2 separate regions of the Homo sapiens genome follow, and region 2 is linked to region 1. Evidence: fine-mapped expression QTL. A gene starts in region 1. The other region holds a variant in brackets. All regions are shown on one strand. Distances are from middle to middle. Region 1 holds the start of DUSP6 (dual specificity phosphatase 6). Region 2 has its middle 75 kb from the start of DUSP6.

What was found.
Region 2: its variant is fine-mapped to the expression of DUSP6 in whole blood (TOPMed, PIP 0.91).

What each region holds. Positions count from the first base shown.
Region 1 is chr12:89,347,353-89,356,219 of GRCh38, reverse strand. DUSP6 (dual specificity phosphatase 6) reads left to right here and starts at 3,719. Exons shown (of 3, transcript NM_001946.4): 1 at 3,719-4,580; 2 at 5,195-5,632; 3 at 6,659-8,867. The coding sequence starts at 4,181. The coding sequence ends at 6,966. It overlaps POC1B-DUSP6 (POC1B-DUSP6 readthrough), which reads left to right. Exons shown (of 11, transcript NR_189589.1): 10 at 5,195-5,632; 11 at 6,659-8,155. RefSeq lists enhancers at 1,494-1,543, 4,593-5,227, 5,863-6,497 and a silencer at 2,464-2,773.
Region 2 is chr12:89,272,936-89,281,802 of GRCh38, reverse strand. No RefSeq gene overlaps it. Among named protein-coding and RNA genes, the nearest start is that of DUSP6, 75 kb to the left of the region's middle. The variant C/T (reference allele first, on the strand shown) is at 4,480.

The sequences.
Region 1 (8,867 bases):
AATTGGACTGTCCTCATTAGAATGTAAACTTCAGTGAGGCAGGTTATTGTTGTCTGTTTATTCTCTACTGCTTTCCTGGAATCTAGAATAAATGCATCAATGAATGAATGAAGTGAGGCCCAGACTACTACTGAGTGACAGAGGTTTGAACCTAGGCTTATGTGCTGTGCTGACGCACTAGATAACCAATGACACTTGTGAAGATTAGGATCTAGGGCATATTCTAAGAGAGATAAAATATGCAACATTTAGTGAATGTTTGACTGATGAAGGGTTGCGTGCAAAGAAAACCACTGGTGTGTAAAAGGAGCAGGGAAAGCAGCCTCGCTTTTGATCTTTGACATGGAGGATGCAACAGAAAACGTGAGGCTGGAGAAAGCCTGGAGGTCAAAATTCAAAATGCTGACCTTGAAATTCTTCACATGTGGGCAGGGAATACCACGTGGAGGTGAATATAGTGTCCATAACACTCTATGTAATCCGTGCATGTGGGCATCCTTAAGAGTCTGTAAAGGGTTTGGCCTCACGTCTTGACACTCTGTTGCTACTGTGTGCCCTTGGGCAAATTCTTTAATCTTTGTAAATGGGATAATTTACATGTTTTTTCTGAAGACTGTCCGAAATTATGCAAGTAAACACAGAAACAAGACGGTACCCATCATGCAGTTAAGTGCCCAATATGCATTGTTGTATCAGTTTGCTGTGGCTGGAGAACAGCGTGTTCCAAAGGTGACCAGTAGGGAGAAATCAGAAATGTAGCTGGGTCCATTCTGATAACTGTGCTAAAGGATTTTTGATCCTGGTCTACGATAACACCCCCTTTACTTGACAGCTGAATTGGAACGGATTAAATCGGTTAGGGTAGTATCTCAGAGGGCTTTGCTGCAGATGAGCGAGTCCAGGCGGGCTGTCAAGCGAGCCTCAAGGGGCATCTGTGGGATGCCCAAACCGTGTCCCCAAGCCGAGGCCTTTTTACAGGTCCTCAATTCAGAATGAAAAATTAATTCCAACGGCTAATAGCACCCCACCACCACTTTAGGACGTTTCACCGTACCCATTTTGTCGTCACAGGGACCCTATGAAGCAGATAGTTTTATCTTCGTTATGCCGACGTGGAAGACTGCAACTTAGAACGGCTAAATGATTTAACTAAGGGCGCTTACCTAGGAAGAAGCGGGGGACATAATGCAAACGAGGGCCGTCCCACTCCAGAAGCCCTTTTCGCAGCATTTCTAGTACTGAGCAGTCAGAACGCCACTTTAATCAATGCGCCAGGAAACACTGGCATTCCCTTGGCGATAAAGTTCAGAAGCATGGGTAAAACTACAGTTTCGATGTATCCTCCCGAATCTATAGTCATACTCAAGTAGCTGCGTATTAAAACAGGCAAAGTAGAAACCCAACTTCCCTCCCTTTCTCTTCTGTTGGAGGTCCTGTGCTGAACCTCCAACAGGTTTGCTCTTCTCAGTTCCGCTGAAGGGCATCCTGCCTCTTCCCTCCCTGTCCCCAGGTCCCAATGACTGAAACGTCTCGGGGTGGGAACTTCTGTGACAGATCGTGGAGGACAGGGGGAGTCAACTCCAGCGCAGGCCTCCCCCGGCTGAAACTAGAAGATACCCAGTGAAATATACGAGTTTTGTTCCAAGGACTGCCCAAAAATGGTGCGGAGAGGAGCTCGGCAATCCCCACCTTTGTCGAACACGCTCCTCCAGGGGCGGCCTGCCTGAAGCAGAGCTCCAAAATTGGCAACCTAGGCCTCGCAGCCGCCTTTTTTTAGCCTACATTTCCCAAACCAGGGAAGAGGCGGGTGACTAAAAATGCAAATTGCAGCGGGGGTGTTAGCAGGCATGCCCGTGGGTGCGGGGCGTCGGGCGAAGGGAGACCCCGCGACCTTAGGCGCCCTCGCGGTGTTCACGGTAGGCGCAAAGCGCAGCAAGGGACACTCCCCAAAGCCGCACCCCGCCGGACGGCTGCCCCCGCTTCCGCCTCTCAGGCAGCGGTGGGACAAAGCGCGGCCTCTTTTCCGCCGGGGTTTAGGGAGGGAAGGCCGGATTAGGGCCCGCGCCTTCCGGCTGCATCCCTCTCGCGCCGCGCCGGCCGCACACAGGTGGTTTTCCGCTCGGGAGGGGCAGGCTTCGGCACTTTTATATAACAATAGAGCTCTGCGCGCCGGGAACGCGCCTCCCCGCCGCCGCGGCCCCCACCCGGCCACGCCTCCATCCGGCTTCCAATCCGTCCGCCCCGCGGCGCCTGGGCCGAGTGCTGCTCGCTGGCCTGGCCCGCACCTCCCCAAAGTTACCTGCTGGCTTTGCAGCGCGGTAGAGACGTTCCCCTCGACTCCTTGGGAGCGAGGAGCCAGGGGGGTCCCGGCAGGCACTCGTCCTTGCTCCCCCCACCCTCCCCAGATCTCTATGGACCCGGGAGTCCCTCGCTGAGCCCCGCACCCGTCCACTGCGTCGCGCACAGCCCCGTGCCCAAGCGGGGAGACGGGGACGGCGGGGCGGTGGCAGGGAGCGCAGCGCGCAGGCGCGGCTGGTGCTCCCCGGAGTGCCCGGCGCTGGACAAAGGGAGGAGGCGGCGGCAGGAGAGGGCTGGGGAGGCCCCCTCTGACATGCCTCCCTGCCAACTGTAACCAATCGTCGAGCCCCCCTGCCGAGCCCCCGCAGCCTGCAGGTCTTGCGGGAGGACTTCCTCACGCCTCGCCCATGGCGGGGACTGCTGGCCCGGCCCGGCGCGTCCCAGCACACCTCGCTCAGGCAGCCCCGCCAGACCGGCTCCCCCGTCAGAAGCCGAGCTCCTTGCCCAGAAATCATTAACCAGCGCGACCTCCCAGCAGGCGATGGTGGTGGTGGGGCGGGGGGAGAGATATAGATTCCCCCGAACAATGGCTTGTAACTCCCCACGCCGCCGGAGCGGAATACAGTAAAAGCACTGGACTGACCTAAGAGTTTGTTTCTGCACTCTACATTGTTTTAATGAAAATAAAATGTTATTTTAAGAAAAAAGGTTTTCTTCTGATTTTCTGCACAACCAGACGTTTGTTTGTTTGCTTTAAAATGTTTCAACAAAATCCTGGTTTGTTTCGAAATATGTTGGATTAGCATTTAACACCTCATCGGTCACTAAAGCCCAGTCAGTTCACCAGCCCCAACACAGCCTCGGCTAAAAGAACATCAGAGCAAACAGAGCTGGGCCTTTAAAAGTGGCAAACAAATGCCACACACCGCCTAAAGAAGGGGGGTTGGGGGAGGGGAGGGTTAAGGCGAACTTGGGTCCAAATGAGTTTGAAGGGAATACAAAGAACGAAAAGTCAGCACAAGTTTTCCTAAAGCTAGCTCGCGAACGCAAGCGTCGCGAACAAGGGCTTTTGTGCATGCTAATTGCGCCATTGGTGCGCAAAAGTTCCGACGCGAAGTGTGAACTCTCAACAGAAGGAAACATGAGACAACTGAAGTGCCCTGGTTTATGTGCCCTGCTCCTCCTCCGCTGCCGCCTCCCCTTCTTTCTCCTTCCTCCCGCCGAGCCCGCTGTTGCAGCTTGTTTGCACTGGGGCTTATCCGGAGCGGAAATTCCTTTCCGTTTTTGTGAATGACAAACTCATTAACAATTCATCAACACAACCTGTTCCAGCCGGCCCGTCCCCACGGCAACAGCCCCTTCCGCAGCACGCTCATTGGCTGGCCCGGAGAATGTATCCATTGAGACGCTCGCTGTTTGTATCCATTGAGGAGCTGCCTCGCGCAGGGGGTGTGCGAGGCTGAGTCCAAGAGATAGCAAATCGAGTCTTAAATAATCCGGGGAGAAAGACGCCCGGGTAGATTTGAGGTGCAGCCTTGGAGGGAGGGATTAGAAGCCGCTAGACTTTTTTTCCTCCCCTCTCAGTAGCACGGAGTCCGAATTAATTGGATTTCATTCACTGGGGAGGAACAAAAACTATCTGGGCAGCTTCATTGAGAGAGATTCATTGACACTAAGAGCCAGCGGCTGCAGCTGGGTGCAGAGAGAACCTCCGGCTTTACTTCTGTCTCGTCTGCCCCAACCGCTAGCCTCGGCTTGGGTAAGGCGAGGCGGAATTAAACCCCGCTCCGAGAGCGGCAGCTTCGCGCGCGGTGCGCTCGGCCTATGCCTGCCCCGAGGGGCGTCTGGTAGGCACCCCGCCCTCTCCCGCAGCTCGACCCCCATGATAGATACGCTCAGACCCGTGCCCTTCGCGTCGGAAATGGCGATCAGCAAGACGGTGGCGTGGCTCAACGAGCAGCTGGAGCTGGGCAACGAGCGGCTGCTGCTGATGGACTGCCGGCCGCAGGAGCTATACGAGTCGTCGCACATCGAGTCGGCCATCAACGTGGCCATCCCGGGCATCATGCTGCGGCGCCTGCAGAAGGGTAACCTGCCGGTGCGCGCGCTCTTCACGCGCGGCGAGGACCGGGACCGCTTCACCCGGCGCTGTGGCACCGACACAGTGGTGCTCTACGACGAGAGCAGCAGCGACTGGAACGAGAATACGGGCGGCGAGTCGGTGCTCGGGCTGCTGCTCAAGAAGCTCAAGGACGAGGGCTGCCGGGCGTTCTACCTGGAAGGTACGCGCCCAGGGAACTCCGCGCGCGGGGCAGGGCTAGGGGCGCAGGGCTGCGGGCGGGGCGCGTGGATTGAAAATACCTCTGCTCCGCTCAGCTGGAGCTTCGGAGCCGCGCTGCCCGCCTAGGGACCGGCAGCCGGCGAGGTAGGGGCCGCGAACCGCGCGTTCCGCACCAGAGAACCGGGCCGGCTCAGAATCCACTCGCTTCCGGCTGCGGGTACCGGCGGTTTCTTTCTAACGGGTTCTGCGCCTTCTTAGCCAGAACATCCTCCACCATCACCCTGTTTTCTATCGTTCGATTTTGAATTAAGATTTGCAGGACGGGAGAGATTGTTGGGGATGCAAATTGGCACATCTTAGCTCTCAAAATATTCCAAAAAGTTGCCATTTTGTCTATTTCCGGATTCAAGCGAATAAGGGTTCCCTGGCGAGGCGGGCCCGTTCGTTCCATTCCCGATGGTGCACATTTAAAGTGTGTTTCTCTTATAGATGGTTCTGTATGTAGGGGGTTCGTAGGATGCTTGTGGTGTTTCTTGCGCCGGGCTGCGGTTCTTACAAGCTGTGAAAACTACTACGGCTTCTCAGGTTAGATGATTGCTTTTCTCGTTCTGGCAGGTGGCTTCAGTAAGTTCCAAGCCGAGTTCTCCCTGCATTGCGAGACCAATCTAGACGGCTCGTGTAGCAGCAGCTCGCCGCCGTTGCCAGTGCTGGGGCTCGGGGGCCTGCGGATCAGCTCTGACTCTTCCTCGGACATCGAGTCTGACCTTGACCGAGACCCCAATAGTGCAACAGACTCGGATGGTAGTCCGCTGTCCAACAGCCAGCCTTCCTTCCCAGTGGAGATCTTGCCCTTCCTCTACTTGGGCTGTGCCAAAGACTCCACCAACTTGGACGTGTTGGAGGAATTCGGCATCAAGTACATCTTGAACGTCACCCCCAATTTGCCGAATCTCTTTGAGAACGCAGGAGAGTTTAAATACAAGCAAATCCCCATCTCGGATCACTGGAGCCAAAACCTGTCCCAGTTTTTCCCTGAGGCCATTTCTTTCATAGGTGAGACTAATTAATAGTCGTCGCTCTGACATTTAAATGCAAAATTCCTAGCCATTCATAGAGTTTAAGCTGTTAATCGTTCTTGCTGCTTGCTAATTTGTCTGACTGCAGGTCTCTAATGTTCCTAGAGCGTCCTTAATTCTGGTTTATCTTCTTGCTAAAGGAAGAAAACCTGCCTTTTGACATGGCTGCAGATCACAGGTGTATTTGAAACGCTGTTTCTTGAATCTTTGAATTCAGTCATTGACAGTCGTTCATAATCGGACAACAGATTTTTCCCCCCAGTCTTTGGACTCAGGGGAAGGGTCAGATAGAAGTACTCACTATAGACAGGAATTCCAGCATTGCTTTATAATTTAAAAACATCTAGGAGTTATTTTAGGACATCAAGTTAGTTGTTGGAAAGCAGTATGAATGCTGAATGTTATCCAGTTGAATGATGCGGTGATACTGGTAACAGTGAGACAGTGGGTAACCTGAGCCCAGCAGGAAGAACTGTGGGCTGGAAGCCTGGGAGAAGTGAATCTCCAGGCATTGTAATGCATTTCCTATTACAAAGGAACTCATTTTCAGGCCGTGTCGACATCCTGTTCCTCCTAATGGGCCGTCCCCTGTGACTTCCCTCTCTCTTTTAAAATGCCTGAATACCTCCATTGTTAGCTGCACAACATTTGGAGCATAATTTAATAGACCCTTGCAGTCTGGTTGTCTGTGTAAAAGGCATTCACGAACATATTGCAGGGTTTCTGGTATTCACATGCCGAGGCAAAGAATGCACCCATTAAGGAGTTTTTTGTTGGCAGAAACTTAATACAAAAGCTCTCTTTTCAGAAAATATCTGAAATATGTAATTGTGTCCAGTGTACATGTTTCATTTCAGTGATACATTTTCTGCTGCTTGTAGGGCTCAACTGCCACACACAACTATTATTATTATTATGTTTTCAAGTTCAGTTTTTAGACTGATCATTCACAAAGGGTGGTTTTCAGTCTGCTGAGATCTTGCTTTTCTTTTTGTGTTCACAGATGAAGCCCGGGGCAAGAACTGTGGTGTCTTGGTACATTGCTTGGCTGGCATTAGCCGCTCAGTCACTGTGACTGTGGCTTACCTTATGCAGAAGCTCAATCTGTCGATGAACGATGCCTATGACATTGTCAAAATGAAAAAATCCAACATATCCCCTAACTTCAACTTCATGGGTCAGCTGCTGGACTTCGAGAGGACGCTGGGACTCAGCAGCCCATGTGACAACAGGGTTCCAGCACAGCAGCTGTATTTTACCACCCCTTCCAACCAGAATGTATACCAGGTGGACTCTCTGCAATCTACGTGAAAGACCCCACACCCCTCCTTGCTGGAATGTGTCTGGCCCTTCAGCAGTTTCTCTTGGCAGCATCAGCTGGGCTGCTTTCTTTGTGTGTGGCCCCAGGTGTCAAAATGACACCAGCTGTCTGTACTAGACAAGGTTACCAAGTGCGGAATTGGTTAATACTAACAGAGAGATTTGCTCCATTCTCTTTGGAATAACAGGACATGCTGTATAGATACAGGCAGTAGGTTTGCTCTGTACCCATGTGTACAGCCTACCCATGCAGGGACTGGGATTCGAGGACTTCCAGGCGCATAGGGTAGAACCAAATGATAGGGTAGGAGCATGTGTTCTTTAGGGCCTTGTAAGGCTGTTTCCTTTTGCATCTGGAACTGACTATATAATTGTCTTCAATGAAGACTAATTCAATTTTGCATATAGAGGAGCCAAAGAGAGATTTCAGCTCTGTATTTGTGGTATCAGTTTGGAAAAAAAAATCTGATACTCCATTTGATTATTGTAAATATTTGATCTTGAATCACTTGACAGTGTTTGTTTGAATTGTGTTTGTTTTTTCCTTTGATGGGCTTAAAAGAAATTATCCAAAGGGAGAAAGAGCAGTATGCCACTTCTTAAAACAGAACAAAACAAAAAAAGAAAATTGTGCTCTTTTCTAATCCAAAGGGTATATTTGCAGCATGCTTGACTTTACCAATTCTGATGACATCTTTACGGACACTATTATCACTAAGACCTTGTTATGGCGAAGTCTTTAGTCTTTTTCATGTATTTTCCTCATGATTTTTTCTCTTTATGTAGTTTGACTATGCCTTACCTTTGTAAATATTTTTGCTTGTGTTGTCGCAAAGGGGATAATCTGGGAAAGACACCAAATCATGGGCTCACTTTAAAAAAAGAAAGAATAAAAAAACCTTCAGCTGTGCTAAACAGTATATTACCTCTGTATAAAATTCTTCAGGGAGTGTCACCTCAAATGCAATACTTTGGGTTGGTTTCTTTCCTTTAAAAAAATTTGTATAAAACTGGAAGTGTGTGTGTGTGAGCATGGGTACCCATTTGATAAGAGAAATGCATTTGATTGTGAAGAAGGGAGAGTTAAATTCTCCATTATGTTCGTGGTGTAAAGTTTAGAGCTGGAATTTATTATAAGAATGTAAAACCTTAAATTATTAATAAATAACTATTTTGGCTATTGAATGTGTGTTTTTAAAAACTCAGTTATACCTATGTGTGAAGTGACACATTTTAGAACTTTTTCATTCAGGGATTGATTTTGACTTGTAGGCATAGTAGGGCAAGGTTCTTTTAAGCTTTTCCTAGAACGTTTTTCAGCAGCAGTTTATGAAATTCATCGTTTGCCACGAATAAAGATGACATCCTAGAATGGACCGACTGTACCGTGTATATGAACAATACCTCTTATGAGTATAGTTCCGGCTTAAGATTTTAAAGCCCCTGAAGAAAAATGAACCTATAGAGCATAGCTTGCTGAGGAATACAATTTGGATATTAACCACAGAGAGGTGTAGCAGAATACCAAGATGACAGCCACATGTTAACCTCCTCCCTATCCTTCACTGTCAGGATCTTCTGCTTTATAATGCTGAGATAATGCCAAAGAGGAAGTAGGGATAATTCTTTTTCCAGTCTGTTGTCATGGGCAATTCTACCTGCAGATATCCTAGTGTGAGAATGCTGAATCCAGAATGATGTCTCCACTTTTTCCCCTAGCATGCGCATGGCAAGGCATATCTAAGCTTCCTCACCGTGTCAGGATATGGCTTTAGAATTTTACATTGGCACTTAGGAGGCAACTTTGTCATCCCTGTTGTAATGTGCTTTTTTGTTTAACTGGCTTGGGATGTGGGTCAGAAACCCTTATTGAAACTTGTGGGGATTATTTT
Region 2 (8,867 bases), 74 kb after region 1:
CTGTTGTTCATATTGTCCTTTCCAAAAGATGGTGACTAAATCATTTAAGTTAGACAGCCAAGATTTAGCTCTGAGAACTAATTTTGGCTTATTGTACTCAACATATTTAAGACTGTCAGCAGTTTTTGTTCTCTCCAATGTTTAATAAGGTCAGGAGTTTAAAAAGAGAGCAATTTTCTTGATAAAGTTTTTCCTTCTTTTCCCTTTGGGAAACATCACTGTGCCTAACTGCTTTAATGCTGAAGTTGGCAGGGCTTGCAGGTTGGGAGCAAACAATAAAAAGTCCCTCGCTGAGACAGACTGTATGGAATGAATGCCCTGGGGAACTATACCCCTGCCCAACCCCCTCTGACCCCCCCAACTCAAAGGCCAGATGGGCTCTAGACAAACCCTGGGAGTGTGGGCAGTCTGGGGTAGTGGAGGCCAGCTGCTGTTCTAGGAAATTCCCTCTCTGAAAGACACATGGGAACCCTGTTTTGGTATCCAGAACAGTGCTGAAATGGTCAGAAATAGGACTAAAGTTGGTGGACTTTGCGTATGTACAGACAGAAACATCCTGCTTTCCAAAGAGCTGAACGCTGAGGGTCATTTATCTGTGGGATTCAGGGTACACTAAAGGTTTCTAGTTGAATTGGTTCTCATAACTTTTGTTGCATGTCTTACCTTTATGAAAAAGGCCTTTTCCAACAAGCTTATTTCATTGAAGTGTTATTGTCAGTCAGCTGAGCACGATGGAATGAATTTTGTTTGTTGTAAGGGCAAAGAAGCAGGCTAAAGAGGATGTGGTGAAAGATTCTACTTCCTGTCTATTCAAAGGATGTGAATAGACAGTTTACATAACAGAAAATTCAGTAGGCTCACATATGGTAAATCATACAGCTTTGTTTGCAAATAACAAAATACACATTAAAAAAGTTATAGCGTCTTTGAAAACCTATTAAACTCACAAAAATAAACAGAACCCCAAAATTCAATTATTTCTTGTGAGCAATGTGTCCAGGTTGTATGCTATGGTGAAAAGAATGCTGCATTTGGAATGCGAAGACTTAAATGTAACACAAACTGTGAGCAAGTTATTTACTTTTCTGAAGCTCAATTATTTTCTCATCTATAAAGGGTGGATAATAATATCTATCAACCTTATGAAGTTTATAACAGATTCATATAGGTGAATGGAAGAAATTTTCAAATGGCAAAGCACTGTATAAATATGTTTTTGTGTTTTTAATCAACAAATTAATAAGAGAAGTGACAAATTTTAGTTACTTATCCTTTTCAGAAGCATGTGGAATACAATTTATGAATGCACTAATTGTGTTTAGCAATTTCCCTTTTAGACACTGATGATGAACTAGCTAAATAAACCGTCTCAAAATGTGGGAATTACTTTTTAAAAATTACAATGTTGTGGGCTCTATCAGTACACTGACATTAAACTCAGATTTCACTGAGTTTATTTTGTTGGGTGATTTCATCAATGTTAACATAATTTAATCCACAAAATAATCATAAGTGGTAGATGTTATTCTTTCCATTTTAAAAATAGGAAACTAAAAGTCACCCAAGTTCTTAGTTGACTGATGCTTACATAAAATGATATTGAGTTGAAAAAAACTAAAAACAAAATGGTGTATGTGCATTTTACTTAACATTATATATGAATATGAGGACCTTAATGAATGGAAGACAATTTGAAGAAATACAAATATTTAGACCTAAGTACCTAAACACTTTTTATCTTAATTCTTTTTTAATTCTAAGAAAAAAGTGATTTTGTATCCTGGAACTTTGCTGAAATTGTTTGTGACAACTAGGAGTCTTTTGGAGGAATCTTTAGGGTTTTTTAGATATAGAATCATATTGCCAGAGAATAGGGATAAATTGACTTTCTCTTTTCCTATTTGGATGTCTTTCATCTCTTTCTCTTGCCAGATTGCTCTGGCTAGGACTTCCAGTACTATGTTGAATAAGAGTGGACATCTTTGTTTTGTTGTGGTTCCCATTACTGGTGAACTGAATTTTTAAAAATGTGCTATATATACACCATGGAGTACTATGCAGCAATAAAAAAGAATAAAATCATGTCCTTTGCAGCATCATGGTTGCAGCTGAAGGCCATTATTTTAAGTGAATTAATGCAGGAACAGAAAATCAAATACCGCACGTTCTAACTTGTAAGAGGGAGCTAAACAATCAGTACACATGAGCATAAAAATGAAAACAGACACTGGGGACTCGAAAAACAGTGGAGGGGGAAAGGGTTGGAAAACTACTTATTGGGTACTACGTTTACTATTTGGGTGATTGGTTAAATAAAAGCCTATACCCAGCATTACACAACGTATCTATGTAATAAACCTACAAATGTACCTCCTGAATCTAAAATTTAAAAAACATTCTGAGAAAAAAAATAATATCCTCCCAGGAAATTTTGTTGGTATGATTAAAACAAAACAAAGCACCATTACCCAAGGGAAAATCAGTTTAAAAATCATTTAAACTCTGAAAGATACTATTATAACTTAATAACAAACGAATCTTAGTACAAACAGAGACACTATGACCCAAACCAACGCTTGGGGGCAAGGGGAGTTCAGACTATAACCTCACTAAAAACTATAAGAAAAATGGCACTGATGAATAATAACTCACTTATCATCCCCCAACAAAGACAGGAACACAACCCCGGGGCATTTTCCTGTGTCAATTAACAGTTAATATGTTATCTGCTCAGTGACATTAAGATGTGATTCTCAAAACCTTTTACAAAGACATTGGCTTTGATGAGTGACAGACAACAAGCCCCGGCAGGCTGGTGAAAGGAAATTCAATTATATCGCTTCTAAATTGTGCATCCTCTGGGTTTAACTCAGAGATGCAAATACCAAAGAATAAAACTCGACCCTAGATTTCCTTTCGGAAATGCTGAGTGATTTCACAATTTTGTCCTTGCTAGAGAGGGGCATGCTTCTGGGCAATCAGGTGGTACAACCCGCAGGACAGTGAATGCCGTTGAATAAGGAGTGTGAGGGCTGGCATTTACTGTTTAAGAGGCATTTCAAAGAGTGGCAAATCACTTAGGGCCTCGATAATTCTACACATAATAGAACAAGGGTAGAGATGGCTTTTGTCTATGAAATAATTCAAGAAACAGCTGTTTTCCTTATTTATTCAAGTAGACTGGTTTCCAAGATTGGGGTTCATGCATCTCAGAGATTGGCTACAGACAATCATCTGGGGTCTAGAGAGAAAATACCAGAACTATTATATTATTTATTTTTGTCTGAAAATGTAAGAAAGAGATTAAGCTTCCTAGCACGTATGGAACGGCCTAGTGCTGACATACCCCAGCACTCTTTGTAGGTCTGTATTTTAGACTGTCTTGTATCTTGAACAGTGTGGGAGTTTGCCTGAGAGGGAAATGGAGTTCCACAAGGTGGAGGTAGGGAGGGGACCATTAGTTCCACCTTTTTATTGGCTTTCAGAGTTTCAAAGTAGGGCTTAGTAAGTGGCTTTACAGATTACACTATCTCGTTTTAACGAAATGTATGCTCACCACATAGACAAGTAGCTAGAAAATGGCTCTTGCAGAGAAACTGCAGATTTAAAAAACCTAATAATGTAAGAACAAATGTACAATTCCATCGTAGAGGTGGCTTTTTGCTTACTTTGCCATGTGACAAGAGAAAAGCAATGAGCGAGCCAGATCTATTAAGAATTAACATAACTTTTTTTTCATTGATCAAGAATATTATTGAGCATGTGGATTCACACAATTGTTAATGAGGGTCCTCACTCCAAGTTTCTATTTATATTGAGTATTCTGTGGCTTTGGTACTTACCTCTTTCAGCTATGATAGCTCTGTGTGTTTGCTGGGGCTGCTATAACAAGGTGCCACAGACTGGGTGGTTTAAACAAAAGAAATTTATTTCCTTACAGTTCTGGAGGCTGGAAGTCTGAGATCATGTTGTCAGCATGATTTTTTCTTCTGTGGCTTCTCTTCCTGGATTGTAGATGGCCACTGTCACCCTCTGTCTTCATGTGGTCTTTCCTCTGTGTGCATGCATGTCTGTGTCCAAATTTCCTCTTTATAAGGAAACCAGTCATATCGGATTAGGGCCCATTCTAAAGACCTTATTTTAACGTAATTAACTCCTTAAAACCTTATTTCCAAATATGTTTTCATTCTGAGTTACTGAGGATTAAAATGTTAACATGCAAATTTGTGGGCGGGGGATGGGGGCAGAAAATTTAGCCCATTACAATGGCCATTAACATTGCCTATTAAACTAAACTTATAAACAGACTTTTAAATCACTAATCACAATTTTAACGCAGGACTTTAAAAAGAATCATATTTTGAAAAGTTTTGTGCCAATAATGAATACAAATTATTAAAACGTATTCTATTCCATCGTGACCTCATCCTTTAGAAACTTTTGGTTTAGATGTATGTTCTATAATAGAATAATATATTG[C/T]CATTAATTCCTTAATTTAACAGACACCTATGAAGTGCTTGTCAAGTGCAGGTACTCTGTTTTAGGCACCTGAGATGCATCAGGGAAAAAATTTGCCCTCGTGGAGCTTACATTCTAGTAGGCAAGAGACTGATGATGAATCATAGCACAATAGTTAAGACTGAAGGACTTATCTCTAGCTGCTAGGAGTGTTGCCAAATGACAGCCCTCGTCTGTTAGCCCTCTTTGGGAATTGCCTTTGGATGAAGAGAGCTACCTCATGAAAGGTCATGTACTCTTGCCAGCACAGCCTGCATCCAAAGTCTGGTCACTCCAGAGGTAAAAAGGTCCACATGACTGGAACCATCTGGGTAGCTCTGAAGGGCCATCCTAGTTGGAGAGCTCCCTGTGGGGTTGGTTGAGAACTTTCTTCAGACTCAATCATAGCCCAACACTTTCCCTGAGGGTTACTCATATTATATTTATCATATTATATTATTATATTATGTTATATTATTATTCTATATTATATTACATTACATTACATTCTAATGTTTTACTGTCTTATTAACTGTTTGTCTCCCTTACTAGAAGCAACCTCCGTGAGAGCAGGTACTTAGTCTCCTTTGTTCACTGCTCTGCCCACAGCTCCCAGAACAATGCCTGGAAAGTATTAGTTCTCTAATAAATATTTGTTAAATCAGTGAACAAATCTGCAAAGTGAGAATAAAAGTAGGACTGACCTTACAAGACTAAATTGTGATAATCCATGTGCAGTCTTAATGCAGTGCTTGGCTTTGCAATAAGTGCTTTAAAAAAGTTGGTAATTATTATGCTTATTTCAAAGATGACTTTATCATTTCCTATTTTTAAAAAGCCAGTATTTCAACTCTATTTGTTCAGGTGTTAATTAATTAGACCTTTATTGCCAAGCACTACTTTAGGAGCTGGAGCTACAAAAAGTGTAAGAAACATCCGCTGCCCTTAAAGAGGATCCAGTTCACTTGCAGGGTCACAGGTAACATGTCATTAGTTATTTCATATTTTTCCACTTAGAAGCTAGCTTCTTTTGCATATTCTTTCCTTTTCCAAATACTCTAAGATGTGAATCTTATTACCTGTTTTCCAGTGACTTTTTTCTTCTTCAATTATTTGGGCAATACTTTCCAACTGAAATACATTCATGTCAATCACTGGGCAACAGCTCGTTCAAAATTAGACAAAATGATTTTCTTGTTTCAATGGATATCATCAAATCTTTTAATCTGATGGTTGATTATTGTTATTATTGATACTAAATCAGTTAGGACACCTGGAGAGGATTTTACTTGCTAACCTTTTGGGCGAAATCTCTTTTGACTAAAAGATTCCAAAGATTCCACCAGAACTTTGCCATCTACTCATTCTTGAAGACTTACTTTAGGCATTCCCTCATCCAGGAAGGGTTCCCAGATTAAATTAGCTACTTTCTACTCTGGCCTCACTATACCCACTGGAAGGTTAAGCCATCATTGCACTTGGCACATGTTATTTGAAATTCTTCTTTTGTTTTTATTATTATTATTATTATTATTATTATTATTATTATTTTTGTAGACATGGGGTTTTGCTATGTTGCCCAGGCTGGTCTCGAACTCCTGTCCTCAGTGATTCTCTCAACTTGGCCTCCCAAAGTATTGGGATTACAGGTGTGAGCCGCCACACTCCGTCAGTGGAGTTCTGCTTTTGAATCTGTCTTCTTTACTAGCCCAGAAGCTCCTCTAGGATCTGAAGTACCTGCTCTCATGGAGGTTGCTTCTAGTAAGTGAGACAGTTAATAAGACAGTATAACATTAGAATGTAATGTAATGTAATATAACATAGCATAACAATATATTATATAAATTTTCATTGTGTCTCCTACACCTATCACAATGCCTGGCAATTAATCAGAATTATAATAATAGGTAACTCAACTCTTGCTTTGCAGGCAGGCATTGTTGTTCCTTATAAATCCTTATCCTGACCTTCTGAAGTAGGTACTATGATCATCTCCATTTTACAGATGAAAGAAGCGAGGTCCAGAGATCTTAAATAACTTGGCAAGATGAACCAGCTAGTAGTTATCCAGATAGAATTTGGACACAGATAATATGGTCGTGGAGCCCACATTCTTAAACCTTATGCCCTATGCATGAATGCATTTTGAATTGAACTACACATATAATTGTTTTACATAAGGAAAGAACATGACTGGAAACTTTAACTGCAATTTAAGCTTAGCTTTTCTTAAGTTTAGAAGCTTCTGTAAGTAGGACTCAGTTCTCAGAAGTAGAGCTTTTATATTTTCTGGTTTAAAAGTAGAAGATTCTATGGCTTACTGATGTCCTTCTATGTTGCTATAATCTTCTGAAAAAAGGTAACCTGTGTTTAGTCTTGGTTTTGCCCCATATCCTGGGACAATATCCATATTCACAAATAATAATAATATGAACCAACATCTAGTGAACATTCACAATATAACCTGGCCAGAGACACACAGCTGGTCAGTGGTGAGACAGAAATTTGAATCGACACCATTCACTGCTTTGAGCCACTGAGCCATCCTGCTTCAGACAGGACCTTACTCTGTTTACTCTGCCTAAGACTTGTAGCTCAGCAACCAGAAATGAGACCATGCTCCCTCATGTTGTGGCCTTTTTTCTTTCCCTGTCTGGAACCCCAGTTCTTCTGAGACTGAAGTCTAGATCTTAGTCACTGCAGTTGGTGATCCAGTACATTTTCTTGCTGGTCACTTTTTACTAGGACTCCCAATAACTGCCAATTGTTAGACCTCTGCTTCTCTTAGTATTCCTGTTGCCTATGTATCCTTGATGCATGGATATAGCTTTAGAGATTGTATTAGGTCTGAGAAGGACCCCAAACATCGCCTGTTAACAACTACTTGGCTGATACTTTACCACATTCCTGCTAAGTGGTTATGTGGCCATTCTTGAAGAAACTTTTTCCATCTTTTTTTTTTTTTAATTAAAAAAATTTTTGGAGGGGTACATAGTAGGTGTACATATTTATGGGGTACATGAGAGGTTTTGATACAGGCATGCCATGTGAAATAAGCACATCATGGAGAATGAGGTATCTATCCCCACAAGCATTTATCCTTTGAGTTACAAATAATTTAATTATATGCTTTAAGTTATTTAAAAATGTACAATTGAGTTATTTGACTATAGTAAGCCTGTTGTGCTATCAAATAGTAGGTCTTATTCATTCTTTCTATTGTTTTGTACCCATTAACCATTCTCACCCCCCCGCTACCCCCAGTACTCCACTACCCATGGACATAAAGAGTAGAAGAATACTTATTCTGTCTTCTGCTTATTCTGCTAGAACGTTCTATGTTGAAGTGTACTCTTGCCCCATATAACTTCTACTCCTTGGTTTGGTTCTATTAATACTTATCATACAAATCCTGATTCATCTTCTTAGTAAGAGGCTTTATAACATTGAAAAACAATGCTATGTTCTTATGAGTGTTCTTGATATTCCCTTGTCATTTTTCTTATTAGATATTGTTTCAAGTCTCATCACTCTGAGCATGCACGAAAGGGGAGAGAATGTCCTTTGAAGTCAGACACATCCAGCTTTGAATCCTAGCTCCACCACTTACTGGATTTATGTGTTTCAGTTTCGTTTTTCTTTCTCATTTGTAAAATGTTGATAATTACACACAGTTTAAGGCAAGTTGTGAAGATTAATTAAAGAGGTGAAATATAACACTTGATGCAGTGCAGACACTCTAATAAATGGCATTTGCTGTTATTTTTATTATCATTATACTTTTTAAAAGAGGGGTTTAAAGAACCAAAACTGATACCATATTCAGATGTGATCTGATCATCCCTAAGTAGAGTGAGACTCTCAACCTATGATAAGGATGATACTAATACTTAAAAGAGTGGCTTTTCAAAAATGGACAAATGGAGTCTAATCAAACTAAAGAGCTTCAGCACCTTAAAAGAAACTATCAACAGAGTAAACAGACAACCTCCACAATGGGAGAAAATATTTGCAAACTACGCATCTGACAAAGGCCTAATATCCAGCATCTATAAGGAATTTAAATCTACAAGAGAAAAAGAAACAATCCCATTAAAAAGTGGGCAAAGGACATGAACAGACACTTTTCAAGAGAAGACATACATGTGGCCAACAAGCATATGAAAGAAAACCCAACACCACTGATCTTTAGAGAAATGCAAATCAAAACCACAATAAGATATCATCTCTCACCAATCAGAATGGCTATTATCAAAAAATCAAAAAATAACAGGTGCTATTGAGGTTGCAGAGAAAAAGTAATGCTTATATATCATTGATGCTCCAGAATGTAAATTAGTTCAACCAGTGTGGTGACTCCTCAAAGACTT